Linked DNA regions of Homo sapiens: region 2 is linked to region 1. Evidence: fine-mapped expression QTL. Tissue or cell type: lung. Region 1 holds a variant in brackets; the other region holds the start of a gene. All regions are shown on one strand. Distances are from middle to middle.

Region 1 (8,341 bases):
AACCAAATCTTAGGTTTCCCTTGACTAGTTTTTAATGTAAATTCTTAATTTTTTTCCCTAAAAATTGGCATAACCATCATTAACATAGAACATGCCGAGAGGTTTCATGTCTTTAGCAGCCTAATGTGTAGATATTAAAAGCTTCCCCTTAATAAGAATTACTGCAAATTCATGTTTAGTATCAAAATAATGATAGCCCCAAATTTTGCAAATGGCTGTTTGCCAGATCTTCTGTAACTCTCTCACCCCTGCTATGTTTGAGGAAGTGTTTCTCATAGTAAGGTTTTAAAAATTCTACTTACAAAATTATATATCCTCTTCAGCAGATGGGCTGACCGGCTTACAGTCTCCATGGTAACAAGGTTTCTGTATTTTTCCCCCTTTTTAAAATAGCCTAAAGTCACAGAAGAGAACTTAGATATTAATAGCCTAAGAAATTTCAGTGTGAACAACAGTTATTAAGTATACAGCCTTTGATTACTTGTTTCTTCATCCAGCATCATTTGTGATATATAGCAACTGTGATTAAGCATGTATGAATATAAGTTGGCTGAGTGCAGTGGCTCACGCCTGTAATCTCAGCACTCTGGGAAGCCGAGGCAGGCAGATGCTTGAGGTCAGGAGTTTGAGACCAGCCAGGCCAACATGGCGAAACCCTGTTTCTACAAAAATACAAAAATTAGCCGGGTGTGATGGTGTGTGCCTGTAGTCCCAGCTACTCAGGAGGCTGAGGCAGGAGACTCGCTTGAACTCGGGAGGCAGAGGTTGCAGTGAGCCAAGAGTGTGCCACTGCACTCCAGCCTGGGCAATAGAGTGAGACTCTGCCTCAAAATAAAAAAGCATATATGAATATAATTTTAATATTCATGCAGATTAGGATGTGCCAATTGGTTTGCTGAAATGATTAACTATTGGATACCTGTTTAAATTAGCCTCTCTTTCCCAACTTCCTTTTTGCTAGCCAAATCAGATTATGTACTACACTTCACTTAGGGGTCAACAGCATAGTAATAGTGCATTGCATTATTTCATTATCGATGTGAAAGACAAAACCAAGCCTGTCTTCTTCTTGTGTGGTTTCCGTGAACACCCATTTTTGTGTTAAGTGTAGTGTTTTTGCCAACTATAAAAAAAGCATGTATGACTTCATGGGGCCACAGCCCATGTTGACTTGATTGGGTTCTAGTATCTTTGATATGCATAAAGAATTACAACCCCAAACCAGCTAATACATAAATGATTCTCTAAGGCAAGTACACTAATAAAGCATGAAAAGATATTTTAAAGAGACGGGTATATTTGGTTTGCTAAAATTCTTGCATTTTCCTAAGAAGTGCCCTGTTCTTGATACAGTGTGGTTTGTACCTCCCACAGAAAAATCAATTCTTATTTTTGGATTGACTTTTAAATGTTTATTTTTGTGAAGTCATGACATATTCTTGCTTGTTTAGCTGTAAATATTGATGAAGTTGGCCAGGCGTGGTGGCTCACGCCTGTAATCCCAGCACTTTGGGAGGCCAAGACGGGCGGATCACGAGGTCAGGAGATCGAGACCATCCTGGCTAACACGGTGAAACCCTGTCTCTAATAAAAATACAAAAAAATTAGCCAGGCGTAGTGGCGGGTGCCTGTAGTCGCAGCTACTCAGGAGGCTGAGGCAGGAGAATGGTGTGAACCCGGGAGGCAGAGCTTGCAGTGAGCCGAGATCGTGCCACTGCCCTCCAGCCTGGGCGACTGAGCGAGACTCCATCTCCAAAAAAAAAAAAAAAAAAAAAAGATTGATGAAGTCGTTGTTCTATCAAAAGATCTAGAATAAAGGAGAATATTTTCTGTCCAATAGCAGAAAATTAAGAAAATTAAGCAGACCTGGAGTGCCTGGCCCTGCAATGGGCTCTTTTTAATATGTGATTGGAGCTGAAATCCTATGACAAGATCACCTGAGAGTTTCATTTATATATCTGTTAAAACTTTTTCACCTCATTTTTCCACTGTTGTGTCTCTATATTTATTTACTTTGCTGTCAGCTGATCAGGCTGAGCTATAAAAGACCCAGTGTGGAGGGTATGTGTGAAGGAAGAATTTGATTCTACTGAAAAAAAAAAAAAAAAAAGGCGTGTTCTTTATGTGCTTGTGATGAGATTCAGTGGGAGGTTGGTTGGGGGTGAGTATCTGGTGATGATGCTCTTATCACTGCCACTTCTGCTGCAAGATCAATTTCCTAGGAGGCTTTGAGGTCTTGACCCACATAAAAATACTCCTCCCCTGCCCTCCAAACTATTGGGCTTTGTTTTATCCCATGTTTCTGTGATAGCATGTATGCAGGTATTTATTTGGGAATTGATTCCATGGAGTGGGATTGGAGCGGGTGAAGAACTAATATCAGAATATATTAACAAGTTGGCCAGTGCTGGGAGCAATTAGTGATTGGTGATACCATGCCTCTCTGTGAAGCCCCATGAAATGTGGATCAGAAATGTCCACCCTGGACAGCGGTAGGGGGAAGCATTTATTCACCGGCATCTGTTCCCCATTGACTGAGAGTAGCCTCACAGGGGTTAGCTCCCTCATACTACCTAGTTGCACATGCGTGAGTGCCAAGCATCCGGCACCTCTTTGTGGCCAGAAAGCCAAAGGTCACCGCCTCAGTGTGAAGCTGGTCAAAGCCTATGTGGGCCTGATTATTGCCAGTGGCTAGAGGGGTAGGGCCTAGAGGACATGACATGGTTCCCAAAGGGACCAACTGTGCATCTCAAAGATATCAACATCTCTTTCATCAGTTCACTTTTTTATAGCCTCTGTGAAAGGAGAATTCTCCTTTCTATCCTTCCAGAAAACATAGGTGTGGATTCTTCGGTCTCATATAATAAATCTATACTAATGATCTTACCACCCTGACCCTTCTAATCACCTCCTCAGATCCAGCATCTCCACCTCATTAACAGGAAACCATCTTCCTATCCAGGCTTCTTGGAGCCATTCCATCTGGGTGTTAGGACTGGTTTCAGGTGTCCTTGTCAGGAGTTTGAACCCAGAGTCATGGAAGAGTACCCCCATATCAATAAATTATTCTTTATCCAACTTAGCATTTTGTAGCCCCTGGTCTAAAACCACTCCCGATGATCTTCCTCTGGTTCCCACTGATACATATTCCTTTGATGAATAAGCAGTTTACTTCTGCAGCAGGAACTATATTTCCCTGCTTGGGCTGTGCCGGGACCTGACTGTAGTTACTGGCTCAGAGGCAAAGAGATTAACTGGCAGCAGATCTTAAAAAGGACAAAAATTTCCTTGTTAGGCAGCTACCTCATGTGAAGACTTTGCAGGGTCTCTAGGCAAGGGGATATTGCTCTCCTCTAGCAAGAGGAAGGGAGAGTTGCTAATGGTTTGGAGAATTCAAAGGAACCTGAGGATTAAAGATTCTCAGATGTCTGCCCAGATGCCCTGATTCCAGGTCTTGGAATCCTCTCTTTTCCTATGAGGGCTCTGACTTTGACATGAGAGACGTACTGAGACTGTGCCTTCATTTTCCTTTGCAGGTCTTTCAGCTTTATAGTTAGTTCCTGAGCCTGATTTTCAGCCCCATGGCTGCAGGCAATGAGTCAACCTAAACACTGTCAAGGAGGCCTTTCACAATCCTCTTTGAGTT[A/G]ATAGTTAATGCACCTAAACATATAATTTTAATATTACCTCTTCAAGGCTTCCAAAGCAGTTAATAAAAGCCATACAACTCCATGATTCTTATAATTACCATTGACCCTATGTCATTCAAGTACCACAACTACCACTTAATTCATTATTTCCCTTTCCATATGTACCTCATCCCAGTTCACCACAGGTAAGAGTTTTAGTAGATGTGATGCTACTGTATGCCTGCGATGATTGCTATCCTACTTACCACCAGCAATAGGGCGGGTGATCTAGCTCCATGATCCAGAGGGGCTGCTTTCTAAGGCCACTTGCCTTTATAGCTCAAGTCCCTGCAAAAACAGATCCTGAGATAATTGCTTGCATTCAGGTAGTTTATTTGGGATGAGATCCCAATTGGAGTAAAGGACCTAGGAAGAGAAAAGGGAAGGAGAAAAAGCCAGTACAAGAATACATTATCAGGCTGGGCACATTGGCTCATACCTGTAATCTCAGCACTTTGGGAAGCTGAGGTGGGAGGATTGCTTGAGTCCAGGAGTTCAAGACCAGCCTGGGCAACACAGTGAGAGGCACCCCCCCCCCCACACACACACATCTCTATAAAAAACAAAAAAGAATACATTATCAAACTGACCACTGCTGAGAATACTGGGTACTTGATCTCAGGCACTTTTGAGGAGCCATATAAAATATATCTCAGAACTGTCTGCCTTGGGGCTGACATGCAGAAGCATGTGTCCATTTGCTTCTGTCCCCATTGGCCAAGAGTGGCCCACAGGCATTTACTCCCCTGCACTTCTTTTTTTTAATTAATTAATTTATTTATTATTATACTTTAAGTTTTAGGGTACATGTGCACAATGTGCAGGTTAGTTACATATGTATACATGTGCCATGCTGGTGCGCTGCACCCACTAACTCGTCATCTAGCATTAGGTATATCTCCCAGTGCTATCCCTCCCCCCTCCCCCCACCCCAAAACAGTCCCCAGAGTGTGATGTTCCCCTTCCTGTGTCCATGTGTTCTCATTGTTCAATTCCCACCTATGAGTGAGAATATGCGGTGTTTGGTTTTTTGTTCTTGCGGTAGTTTACTGAGAATGATGATTTCCAATTTCATCCATGTCCCTACAAAGGACATGAACTCATCATTTTTTATGGCTGCATAGTATTCCGTGGTGTATATGTGCCACATTTTCTTAATCCAGTCTATCATTGTTGGACATTTGGGTTGGTTCCAAGTCTTTGCTATTGCGAATAATGCCACAATAAACATACGTGTGCATGTGTCTTTATAGCAGCATGATTTATAGTCCTTTGGGTATATACCCAGTAATGGGATGGCTAGGTCAAATGGTATTTCTAGTTCTAGATCCCTGAGGAATCGCCACACTGACTTCCACAATGGTTGAACTAGTTTACAGTCCCACCAACAGTGTAAAAGTGTTCCTATTTCTCCACATCCTCTCCAGCACCTGTTGTTTCCTGACTTTTTAATGATTGCCATTCTAACTGGTGTGAAATGGTATCTCATTGTGGTTTTGATTTGCATTTCTCTGATGGCCAGTGATAGTGAGCATTTTTTCATGTGTTTTTTGGCTGCATAAATGTCTTCTTTTGAGAAGTGTCTGTTCATGTCCTTTGCCCACTTTTTGATGGGGTTGTTTGTTTTTCTTCTGGGTTGCAAATGCATGAGTGTGGAGCTGCTCCTAAGCCTTAGTTGGCATTTGAAAGCTCTGGAGCAGGAGGTGAAAGGTATGTGGAAGGGGGAGAGGGAGGCAGAGGCAAGGTGCTGTCTGATTATACCTGTTTGAATCTGGTTGAGCCTGCATGTACGTGGCCACGTCAGCAGAGGCTGGAGTAAGATGTGGGGCTGAGAGGTTGCGAAGTACTTGAAGGGCTTCCTGTATAGGCTTTATTCCACTTGATTGATTTAAGATGCATTCATTTATTGTGCTCACTAAATGTATCCACTTTTCTTCTTTGTTTTCTATTATTTCTGATATAAATATATTTAACTTTTGTAACCAAGAATAGTGTTACTTTAAAAATATTATACCCCCTTAGGCCAGATGTGGTAGCAAACATCTGTAGTCCCAGCTACTTGGGAGTCTGAGACAGGAGGATCGTTTAAGCCCAGGAATTGGAGGTTGCAGTGATTGCACCAGTGCATTCCAGCCTGAGCAACAGAGTGACAACCCATCTTAAAAAAATTACCCCCTTACATAAAGATTTTAGGCTTAATGTGAGGACATATAGGACAACCTGAGGAAAGGACAAGTGGAGAGTGTAGAAGAGAGAGAATCAATGATGTAAGTAAATTTCTGCTTGCTGTTACTTTCCAAGTAGAATGTAGGAAAGTTAAACACTATAGCCAAGAGCCTGAATTTGTCCTGTGTGAAGTCCTTCAAGACCTAGTCAAAGTAGCACATTGCTAAAACCTTTTCTTCCCAGCACTCTTTCTTTCCCTCATACTTCAGTGGGCGGGGGTGATCCATGTGACTTTAGCAGATCTAACCAAGCCCTAAGTGAAGTTCCCTGGGGAAAAAGCATGTAACTTCTCTCTCTCTCTTTTTTTTTTTTTTCTTTTGAGATGGAGTCTTGCTCTGCCACCCAGGTTGGAGTGCAGTGGCACAATCTTGGCTCACTGCAACCTCTGGCTCCGGGTTCAAGTGATTCTCCTGCCTCAGCCTCCCGAGTAGTTGGGATTATAGGCGTGCATCACCACACCCAGCTAATTTTTGGTATTGTTAGTAGAGACAGGGTTTCACCATGTTAGCTAGGCTGGTATCGAACTCCTGACCTCAAATGATCTGCCCACCTCGGTCTCCCAAAGTGCTAACTTCTCTTAAAGTTGGAACTATTCTGGGTTTGGGTTGGGGGACAGACATGCAAGTAAATCACATTTACCACACAAGCAAGAGTATGCATGGAAAGGTGAATAAGAATCAGTCCTTGCCCTAAAGAGCCATTCCTTCTGCTGGTCTTGAAGTTTCATAGGAGCGCTGCTGTGTAGCAGCTGATTGTGAACTCAAGGGTCAAGCTTCTCTGGATTTAATATTGGGGGTCTAGTTTCTCTCTATGACAGGTGGAGAGGATTTCTTGGATTTTATGACAATCTAGACAGAATTTCTTAGATTTTATGGTCTAGTTTCTTTGCCCGGATATATTTTGATACCAGTTTTTGGGTAACTGTCTTAGGTGATAATTATGAAAAAGTCTGTTTTCTTTCTTACCTGTATTTATTATTTGAAGAACATATGTATGTACTACTTTAAAGTACATTATAGGGCCGGGCGTGGTGGCTCATGCCTGTAATCCCAGCACTTTGGGAGGCCAAGGTGGGCGGATCACTTGAGGTCAGGAGTTTGAGACTAGCCTGGCCAACATGGTGAAACCCTGTCTCTACTAAAAAAATACAAAAATTAGCTGGGCATGGTGTGGCGTGCCTGTAATCCCAGCTACTTGGGAGGCTGAGGCAGGAGAATCGCTTGAACCTGGGAGGCAGAGGTTGCAGTGAGCTGAGATCGCAACACTGCACTCCAGCCTGTGTGACAGAGCGAGACTCCGTCTCAAAAATAAGTAAATAAAGTACATTATAAACATTCTGGTGCATATACAAAAATGAAATATTAAAGAATAAAATATAGATTTGAATATGGAAATAGAGACTTGAATATTTTCTTCCTGCACTCCAGCAAATGTTTTTGCCTTCTCCCTGGGCTGCCAAAGTCCACGTGGGAGACATCCGATTCAGATGTCCATGGCTCCCTTCATGCACTTCAACAATGTGAATTTTAAGAGATGTTTGGACCCATGTACTCACCGTTAGACATAGCTAGACCTAAACTAACCTCTGTGTGTAGTTATATATTGAAGACTGTCTTCCTAACATTTCAGAACTTCTGTTAATTTCCAGTACTCTATCATTCACAAGACTGTTATTACATTGTCTGCTGAGAATTACAATGAATTTAGAACAGGGGTGTCAGCCTGTGTTGGCAGATAGGTTTTGTTTGGCTCATCATTCAGAAAAAAATAATTTTGAATGACTGCCAAGATTTGAAAGTTGGGGGATTTTGTACACGAGTCTGAATTTTCAACTTTTCTGGAAAAATTGTGAGGAATGGCAAAACTGGCTTTTCATTCTTCTAGGAAGACATTCGGAGCTGATGGGTGGCTGCCTCTTTTAGGTAGGCATCTGCCCTCTTGGTCCTCATTAACCCTGCCCCCCGCCTCACAGCCAGTGTGCTTCACTCACTTATATTACTTATGTGTCTTCTGTAGAATTTAAGTTGTTTGCTTTGGTCTAAATTTTGCAAGTGTTAATATTAACACAGGCTTCTTGAAATTATGTAATATGCAGAAAACTCTTCAAACCTCAATCTGTGAGGAGTGCTGTTTACCTGGTTTATTTGCTGAGAACCCCAGGAGCTTGATTGCATGCACAGGCTGGAGCTGGCTTGGTGCAGTGTGATTTTCCAAACAGCCTCTAGAGCAAGATTGCCTGGGTTCAGGTTCTGACTCTGCTGTTTTCTAACTGTGGGACCCTGGGCACATTAATCACTCTCTGCCTCAGTTTCTTTATCTGCATAATGGAGCTAATAAATGAATAGATGTAAAATAACAGGCTAATAACATTGCTTGGCACATAGTAAGCATTTAGTATGTGTTGGCTGTTATCTTTAATTTACCAATTC
Region 2 (8,341 bases), 31 kb before region 1:
TGCCCACCTGTGGTCTCAGCTACTCAGAAGACTGAGGTATTGCTTGAGCCGGAGATGGAGTCTCACTGTGGTGCCCAGGCTGGAGTACAGTGACGTGTCACAGCTCACTGCAGCCTCGACCTCCTGGGCTTAAGCAATCCTCCCACCTCAGCTTCTTGGTTAGCTGGGACCACAGACACGCACCACCATGCCTGTCTAACATTTTTTTCTTTTCCTACTCATGCTTTTGGTGTCATGTCTAAGAATTTATTGCCAAATCTAAGGTCATGAAGATTTACCCTTATCTTCTAATAGTTTTATATTTTTAACTCTTTTAAGTCTTTGATTAATTTTGAGTTAATTTTTGTATATGATATAAGGCAGCAATCCCCAGCCTTTTTGGCACTAGGGATTGGTTTCATGGAAGATCAATTTTCTATGGGACGGGGATGGAGGATGGTTTGGGGATGATTCAAGCACATTACATTTATTGTGCACTTTATTTCTATTATTATTACATACTCACCATAATGTAGAATCAGTGGGAGACTTGAGCTTGTTTTCCTGTAACTAGATGGTCTCATCTGGGGGTGAGGGGAGATAGTGACAGATAATCAGGCATTAGATTCTCATAAGAAGCCCACAACCTAGATCCCGTGCATGTGCAGTTCACAATAGAGTTTGCACTCCTATGAGAATGTAATGCCACCCCTGATCTGACAAGAGGCGGAGCTCAGGCCATAATGCTCACTTGCCCCACCGCTCACTCCCTGCTGTGTGGCCCAGTTCCTAACAGGCCACAGACTGGTACTAGTCTGTGGCCTGGGGGTTGGGGATCCTTGATGTAAGGTCAGGGTTCAACATCATTTTTTCCACTCTGGTGTCAGAGGTAGGGACAATGATGCACCTCTCTCTGAGTGACATCACCATGTTAGATGCTGAATGTTTCTGGCAGAAGCACTCAAAGCAGTCCCACGTTTCCTGACTTCTTTCTCGATGAGCCAGAAGCAAAGGTGATCAAGGCCCAAGTACACTCAGTGCTGCTGTGGCCAAGGTACAGCCTCCAGGTACAACTGGGCAGAAGAAGGGAGCCCCCACCTCTGCCATACTTGCTTAGAACTTAGTCTCAACAACAGGTAGCTGCGGGGAGGATGACAAATGCTGATGTTTTGTCCCTCCTAGGAAGCTGACCCTCCAACTGGGAGCTGAAGGGTGAGGGAGCCCTGTGTTCTTGGCTGCACCAGTATAGCGTGGAGCCCTCTCTGAGTTGGAAGCATGAAAAGAGTGAGTAGGTCTTGGTTCAAATACCTCAAGCTCACTTTTCTTACTGGGTTTCAGTAGGTTTTCTTGAATAAATGTTCCTTCATTTGTTGTGCACCTTTAGGACCATTTTTAGAAATTTAAATGGTTGCTTATATATAAAACATATAATTTTCACCAGTTTTGCTTTGAGCTGGGTGTACAGGGCTTCTCATGTTGTTATGCCTCTGTGGGTTCTGTTTCAATAACTTAAAGTCAGTGAGAATGTGGACAGTGGAAAACCACACAATTCAAAGTCCAGTGCTCACATAGTAATTTAATATGCACACACGTATCAACTATGAAAATGGCTCAGAACTAAATACGGATTGGGTTGACAGTAACTAAAGTAGGGAGTCCTGCATGGTTAGACCTCCATTCCCCATAAATTCATGGAGTATCTACTATATGGAAGGTATAGGAATAGAAGATAAACCGCTAAAAATTCTGAAAATTAGGAGATTTTCACAAAAACAGAACTAACAAACTAATAAGCTAAGGCAGCCTATTCTAAGTGCCCAGAGAATACATGCTCCAGTTTTTCAGAAGCACAAGAATTATGTGGGACTGGAGTAGTCAGATAGGATTTCTGTGGAGGAAGCGTGAGCTGAGTCCCATTTAGAAGAAAGGTAGGATTCAGCCGGGTGTGTAGGTTGTTGGGAGGGCATATTCCAAGGAGGCATTCCAAAGCAGAAGAGCTCAAATGTGATTGTATTTGGAATACTTGGGTATTGATGACTAGACCTGCCTGCTTGCTGGAAGGTTTGTATAGAGAGATCAAGATGGAGAAATGAGATGGAGAGTGATCAGAAATGCAGGAGAGGCTGAGTTGTTGGACCATGGAGTTTGGACTTTATCTTAGAGAAGAGTGACTTGGGCAAGATATTTTAGGAAAATGGTTTTGCCTGTAGTGTGTAGATGGAATGAAATCTCTGCGTGTGTATGTGTGCATGTGCATACGTGCACATGCACCAGGAAGCCTGGAGGCAAGGACATTAGTTATAAGATTGTTACAGAGGTTTGGATTAAGTGAAGGGATTAGGAATGGAAAGGAAGTGTCTGGTGGATGGTAAGATATAACCAGGACCTCAATAAAGCCAAGCAATTATTAAAACAAGCATGGTAGTTGTGTCCATAAACATAAAGTCCTAGAATGCAAGCTGATTTAGCGATTTGAGATAGTAAGTATATTTTAATTTAAACGGAGTCTCTTTATTTTTGAATTTGCATATACTTTTCTTCCCTCTTCTTATTCCTCTGTCAATACCTCGCACTTATTCTTCCTTTCCGCAATCCCTCTCTTTTAATTTGATCACAAATTAATCTCTTGTATGTATTTACAGGAGGAAACCAATGGCAAACGTTGTGTATGGTTGCAAGGATGAGTTTCTCCCCCTTGAAAATATCCATTCGCATAGAAATGGGAGGCACAGTGACCAACTCTTGCTTCTTAGCAGGTCTAACATGACCTTCAAAACTCCGTAGGACATACTGGTCTTTGGCGGGGCAGCATCTCCCGTCAGACTCAGGCTGGCTGGGTTTCTCACAGCTGCCTGGATGTGTGTGACTCGCAGCTCTAAGGACAGAATTGCCAAAGCAATACAAAAACACGGACGAAAAGCAAGCCACAAAACCCCATGCCTTACACATTAGGCTGATGAGTGAAGTCGCGGAAGGTGGCTCTGCTCTTGCCCTTTTAAAATTCCAGTGCAGCAAACACACACACACACACCCGCTCGGTTCTTCCCATTCCCGCCACACTGCACCAGCTTCCGTCCCCAAGTCCTGATTCATGAACCGTGCCACCTTTGTCTCATTTTAAACTGTGCAGACTATTTTAATCTTGCCACCCCCATCCCAGATTTCCCCCTCCCTTCATCCTCTGGAAGCTCTGATGTAAAGCGCTTGCTAGGTGGGAGAGCGCTTCTCCCAATCCGCTCGGGTAGGCGAGTTTCCGAGAAGCCCCCTCCCCGGGACCCCGCCGCGAGCGCGGGGGAAGCGCCTCGGTCCCTTTAAGGTGCCGCGCTCTCCGAAGTGCGGGCAGGGAGCCTGGGCGCCGGCGCGGGTCCTGGAGCCGGGTGGGGAAGTCCTGCGCCCTCCCCCTCCGTCCGCAGCCCAGCCTCGGGGGCCAGCCCCCTCCGCCCACCGCACACGGGCTGGCCATGCGGCGGCTCTGAACGATGTCCTCCTCCTCCTACGCCAAGAACGGGACCGCGGACGGGCCGCACTCCCCCACCTCGCAGGTACCGCCCCCTCCTCCCCCTTCTCCTCTTCCTCCTCTTCCTTCCTCACACCTCCTCCGCCGCCCTAGCGCGCCCCGCCTTCGTGCCGGGCGTGCGGGGCCCCAGTCCCGGGAGTCGGCGGCCCCGCTCCCCCCACCCCTCCTCCACGTCCCTTTCTCCTCCCGCTCCTCCTCTTTCTCCTCCTTCTCTTCCTCCTCCTCCTCACCCTCCTTCGGGTCTCTGCGCTCCCGCTCCGGAGCCCGCAGCCTCCCCCAGCGGATGCCGGGGACTCGGACCCCGCACCCTGAGAGTCTTTGTTAATGGATGTGGTGGGTGCTTGCGGGCTGCTCTTCTCGAGCATCTTTTCAGCAGTCGAGGCTTGCAGTGGGTGGGTGGGGGTGGGGGCTGTATTTGGGAGTCGCGGAGGAGACTTGGGTGCGGGCTCTAGGGGACCCCAGGGAGCGGGTCCGGAGGCGGACTCCAGCCGGGGGTGGTCGCCCCGCTCTGCGCTGCGGTCCTCACCGGCTTCTCTCTGGCCCCCGTGTGTCGAGTCCAGGTGGCCCGAGGCACCACAACCCGGAGGAGCAGGTTGAAAAGATCCGATGGCAGCACCACTTCGACCAGCTTCATCCTCAGACAGGTATGAGAAGGAGGCGGGAGACCAGGATGGGGAGGAGGCCGAGCGCGCGGCGCGGGGGTCCTGGAGCCGGCCGTGGCCCACACGTGCGGGAGCTGCGGGTCAAGCCCGCGCGCGTCTCTTCCCGGCCTCGGCCGGTGCTCGGGCTCAGTCCCTCTCCCTCTAGCCTGGGCTCTTGACGTCTTCGCGTCCCGGCGTCTCCGCACCGCCCCGGGAAGTTAGTTTGTGCATGTGTGTGGACAGTTCGGTGGGGACCTGGCTTAAGTCAGGGACGTTGAATTTAAGAGCTGGAAATATGTCTGGTTGTATCTTTGGTGCGTGGAGAAATGTCTTTAATTCGTATAACTCGACCTAGAGTAACCAGACCCCTCGGGGCCGGGGACCTGGTTTGATTCGAGTTGAGATTTAGTGGTTTCTTCTGTTTTGTCCTAATTTGAATACTCTTATCTGTCTGGATCTTGGGAGAGATCGTCAAGCTCCGGTCAAAAGAAAGACACTGAGCAGAAAGTTTACTCTCACTTTAGGACCGCTTCTTGGATTCGCTTAGTTAGGGAAAGACAGCTGTATCTGGTTAAATAGGAATTAACGAAGGCCAGCACTCAGCTCCGGGTCTGGGTGCGCCTTCACTTCGTGTTTGTTTTCTTAGTGCTTGCTTTCTCCTGCGTGGTTCTAGTGCGAATTGTCTGTGCTCGGGATCTCCGGATCGCTGGTAATGCTCAATGCTTAGGTGCCTTTCACCTTGGCACAGGAAATTGGTCCTCAGTTTTCCAACTGTCCATGTGCTGTTAATGAAACCACCCCTGGCTGCTGGGTGCTAGAGAGATCATGCAATGAGTCACCTTGATCTTTCTTTGGAACAGAAATTGTCGGGGTGTGTCCTAGGTTTCGGGTGACCTAGGAAGACATTGGTCATCGCACCAAGAGGCTTTTATCCCAGGTCTTCCTGTGGGCTGCTGGAGTGACCTTGAGAAGTTCTTTTCCCTCTAGGTCACTCAGTATTGTGTAATGTGTTTTCTAACCTATGATGGCAGCTCTGGTGTTTCTTTAGTGATTATCATCAATTTAAACATATCAACGAGGAATTGATATCAAAATTGAACTCAGACCTCTCCTAAAAGGGTCTATAAAGCATATTTAGATGATATTTATTATGCAGAATTTCACTTTCTGCAGAAGCGGAAATTTTGACTACCATTTAATTCAGCGAGCACTAAGCATGTACATTATGGAAATAAATGCATTTTGGATTCCGAATTCATTCTAAAAGTGCATTCTATCCCCTTTGCAGTATTTAGATTATGTATTTGATAAGGCAAACATATTGTTTATCTTAAAAACATTTTTCTGTTATGCAACTGTTTGAGGTCTTGCTGGTGTTTATTTTGTAGGTGCCTATTTTTAGTGGTGTTTCATTGTTGCAAATTCTTGGAAATACTAATTACACAGCAGTTCTTTCCATAAGCTGTTTGACTAAAACTTTTGAGTTCATCTACATAACTGCACTAATGCTTTATTCTTCCTTCCAAGCACAAACAAAATAATATTCTAATATTCTTACTCTTTTCTCAATTTATGCCCGTAACTGATTGAGATGATGTATATATAAGTTCTTGTAAAGCGTGCTGCTATGTGCTGGCTTAAGAAATGTTAAAAGTATTGCATGCTAAATAATTTTGGGAATAATTTAAAGCAAAGTAGATTTTTTTAAATAAATATATTTCATCTATGAAATGGGAATTCATTGGTTTGATTAAATGGTCTAATTTAAATTCAGGAGTTAATTGTAATTGTATTATATACACAATCTTATTTTTCGGCACAAAAATAGTACTTAATTTTTTTCTTTTTTCAGACGGAGTCTTGCTCTGTCGCCCAGGCTGGGGTGCAGTGACGCAGTCTCTGCTTACTGCAAGCTCTGCCTCCTGGGTTCACGCCATTCTCCTGCCTCAGCCTCCCGAGTAGCTGAGACTACAGGCACCCGCCATCACGCCTGGCTAACTTTTTTGTATTTTTAGTGGAGACAGGGTTTCACCGTGTTAGCCAGGATGGTCTTTATCTCCTGACCTCGTGATCTGCCCACCTCATCCTCCCAAAGTGCTGGGATTACAGGCGTGAGCCACCATGCCCGGGCTACTTAATTTTTATGAGCACTTTACAACTCACTGAGTATACTACACATGATCTCATTCAAATGACATCATACAGACTTCTGTATTGGCTACAATAAAAATAACTGAGGGATTTACATTTCTTTGATGAGATAAGGAAAATGATTACAAATGCAGTTTAACAATAACTTTCGGATAAAATTGAAATCACCCCAATGCCAAAAAATATTTTTTATGAAAGCATAACAGCTGCTTACGTTAACAGAGCCTTGGGCTGGTCACAGTGGCTCACGCCTGTAATCCCAGCACTTTGGGAGGCTGAGGTGGGCGGATCACTTGAGGTCAGGAGTTTCAAACCAGCCTGGTAGCATGGTGAAACCCCGACTGTACTAAAAATACAAAGAAATTTGCCAAGCGTGGTGGTGTGTGCTTGTAATCCCAGCTACTCGGGAGGCTGAGGCAGGAGAATTTTTTGAACCTAGGCGGTGGAGGTTGCAGTGAGCCAGTATTGCTCCACAGCATTCCAGCCGGGCGACAGAGCAGGACTCCATCAAACAAACAAACAAACAAAAACAGAGTCTCATTATTTGTAGAATGACCAGTGATTTATTGATATTTGAATTCTTGATACATTGGAGTGATGAAATTTCTTGGTGCTGTTTCACAGTCTTTGTGATGCCTTTGAAGAAGATAGTGGAATACCAAAAAATATATATATTGCTAGTTTCTTTATCATATTATTTACAAAAATATGGAGAAAAGCTTTCATTAAAAAAAAAATCGATGTGTTACATTGGATGGGGAAGACTGGGCTGTTGGTGAAGCAGAGAAGGCAGTTGGCAACTCACCCAATAAGACAATATTTGTTCTTTGAGCTTGTTAAAAAGTTTCAGTGTTTCTGAGACTATATATGCACATATGTGTGCATGCACACACATGAACATTTGAATTGGCTGGAAAACAAGCAGACTGAGAAAGAGAGCCTGCTTCCACTCTGAGGACTGCTCATGAAGCCCCTCAGGAATCTTTGACCTTGTTTCTGGTCTACAAGATTTCTGGCTTCCACCATTTAGGAGGGATGGAGGTTTTGGAATGAATCCAGGGAGCAAATAAATGGCTTCTTTGAGGAAAGGTGAGAAGATGAAGTACTTTGCCGCTGAAAGGAAAGAAAGCTAGGAGTGACCCAGAAATGATCTTCAAAGTACACACAAAGGCTTTCTTTGGAAATGTGATGAAGTGTTCTCACTCTTCATTGGGGATGAAACTCAAGAACTGGCCCAAATTAGAAAGGAATGATGTTTTACAGCAAGACCTTCCTAAGAGTGTTGCCATCATTGGAGTGGCTTTCCAAATGAGGCCATAGAATTTTCTTTCAGGAGAGCCCTTCTTACAGGCTATTTATGAATGGATTATCTAGTCATATTTTAAAGTTTTAGGAAACACTTAAGTATTTGCTATGTGCCTAGCACTATGTTAGATATTGTAGGGGAGGAATGAAAAGATGGATGAGACACAGCCCCTGTACTCAAAGATTTTTATAATCTAGCAATGGAGACAGAGATGTCTACAAACAGTACGGTGACATGTAACAAGGAACGAGAGGGCGGGCTCAATGACCATGTACCCCGAGTATCTATTATATATCCATAAGTATATCTACCCATGGGTGTCACTACACATACAGTTTATACGGCTGAGTACTCCAAGTTAGTCCTCTTCCCACTGGGGTTTGAAGAGAAAATCTGATCAGAGTGGGAATAGTTTGTTGACTTTTCCTTGTTAAGTCTGCTCTTATGAGGCCAGCAAAGTCATACCTGGCCTGGCCCCTGCCTGCTTCCAGCCTCATCTTGAGCCATGATCTCTTAGCTCTGGACACAGAGTTTGAACACACTGTCTTCCCTCTTGCCACTGGTCCTTTGCATATGCTGAGCCCTCTGTGTGGCAGGTTGTTGTCCTTCCTTCTGCCTAGTTAACTTTTAATCTTCCCTGAGATCTGGGGGTTTAGTCTTCACTTCCTCTTCTAACCTTCCTGATAAAGTCAGTTCCCCAACAAGGGGCTCCCAGAGGGCCTTGTGCCAGTTTTCAGTAGCACCACC

What was found. PIP is the estimated chance that this variant, and not a neighbour inherited with it, causes the effect.
Region 2: CACNB4 starts here. The variant in region 1 is fine-mapped to the expression of CACNB4 in lung (TOPMed, PIP above 0.99).

The regions. Positions count from the first base shown.
Region 1 is chr2:152,063,273-152,071,613 of GRCh38, reverse strand. All of the region lies in intron 2 of CACNB4 (calcium voltage-gated channel auxiliary subunit beta 4), which reads left to right. Among named protein-coding and RNA genes, the nearest start is that of CACNB4, 32 kb to the left of the region's middle. The variant A/G (reference allele first, on the strand shown) is at 3,647.
Region 2 is chr2:152,094,129-152,102,469 of GRCh38, reverse strand. It overlaps CACNB4 (calcium voltage-gated channel auxiliary subunit beta 4), which reads left to right and starts at 3,426. Exons shown (of 14, transcript NM_000726.5): 1 at 3,426-3,521; 2 at 4,057-4,140. The coding sequence starts at 3,459. RefSeq lists a silencer at 3,228-3,517.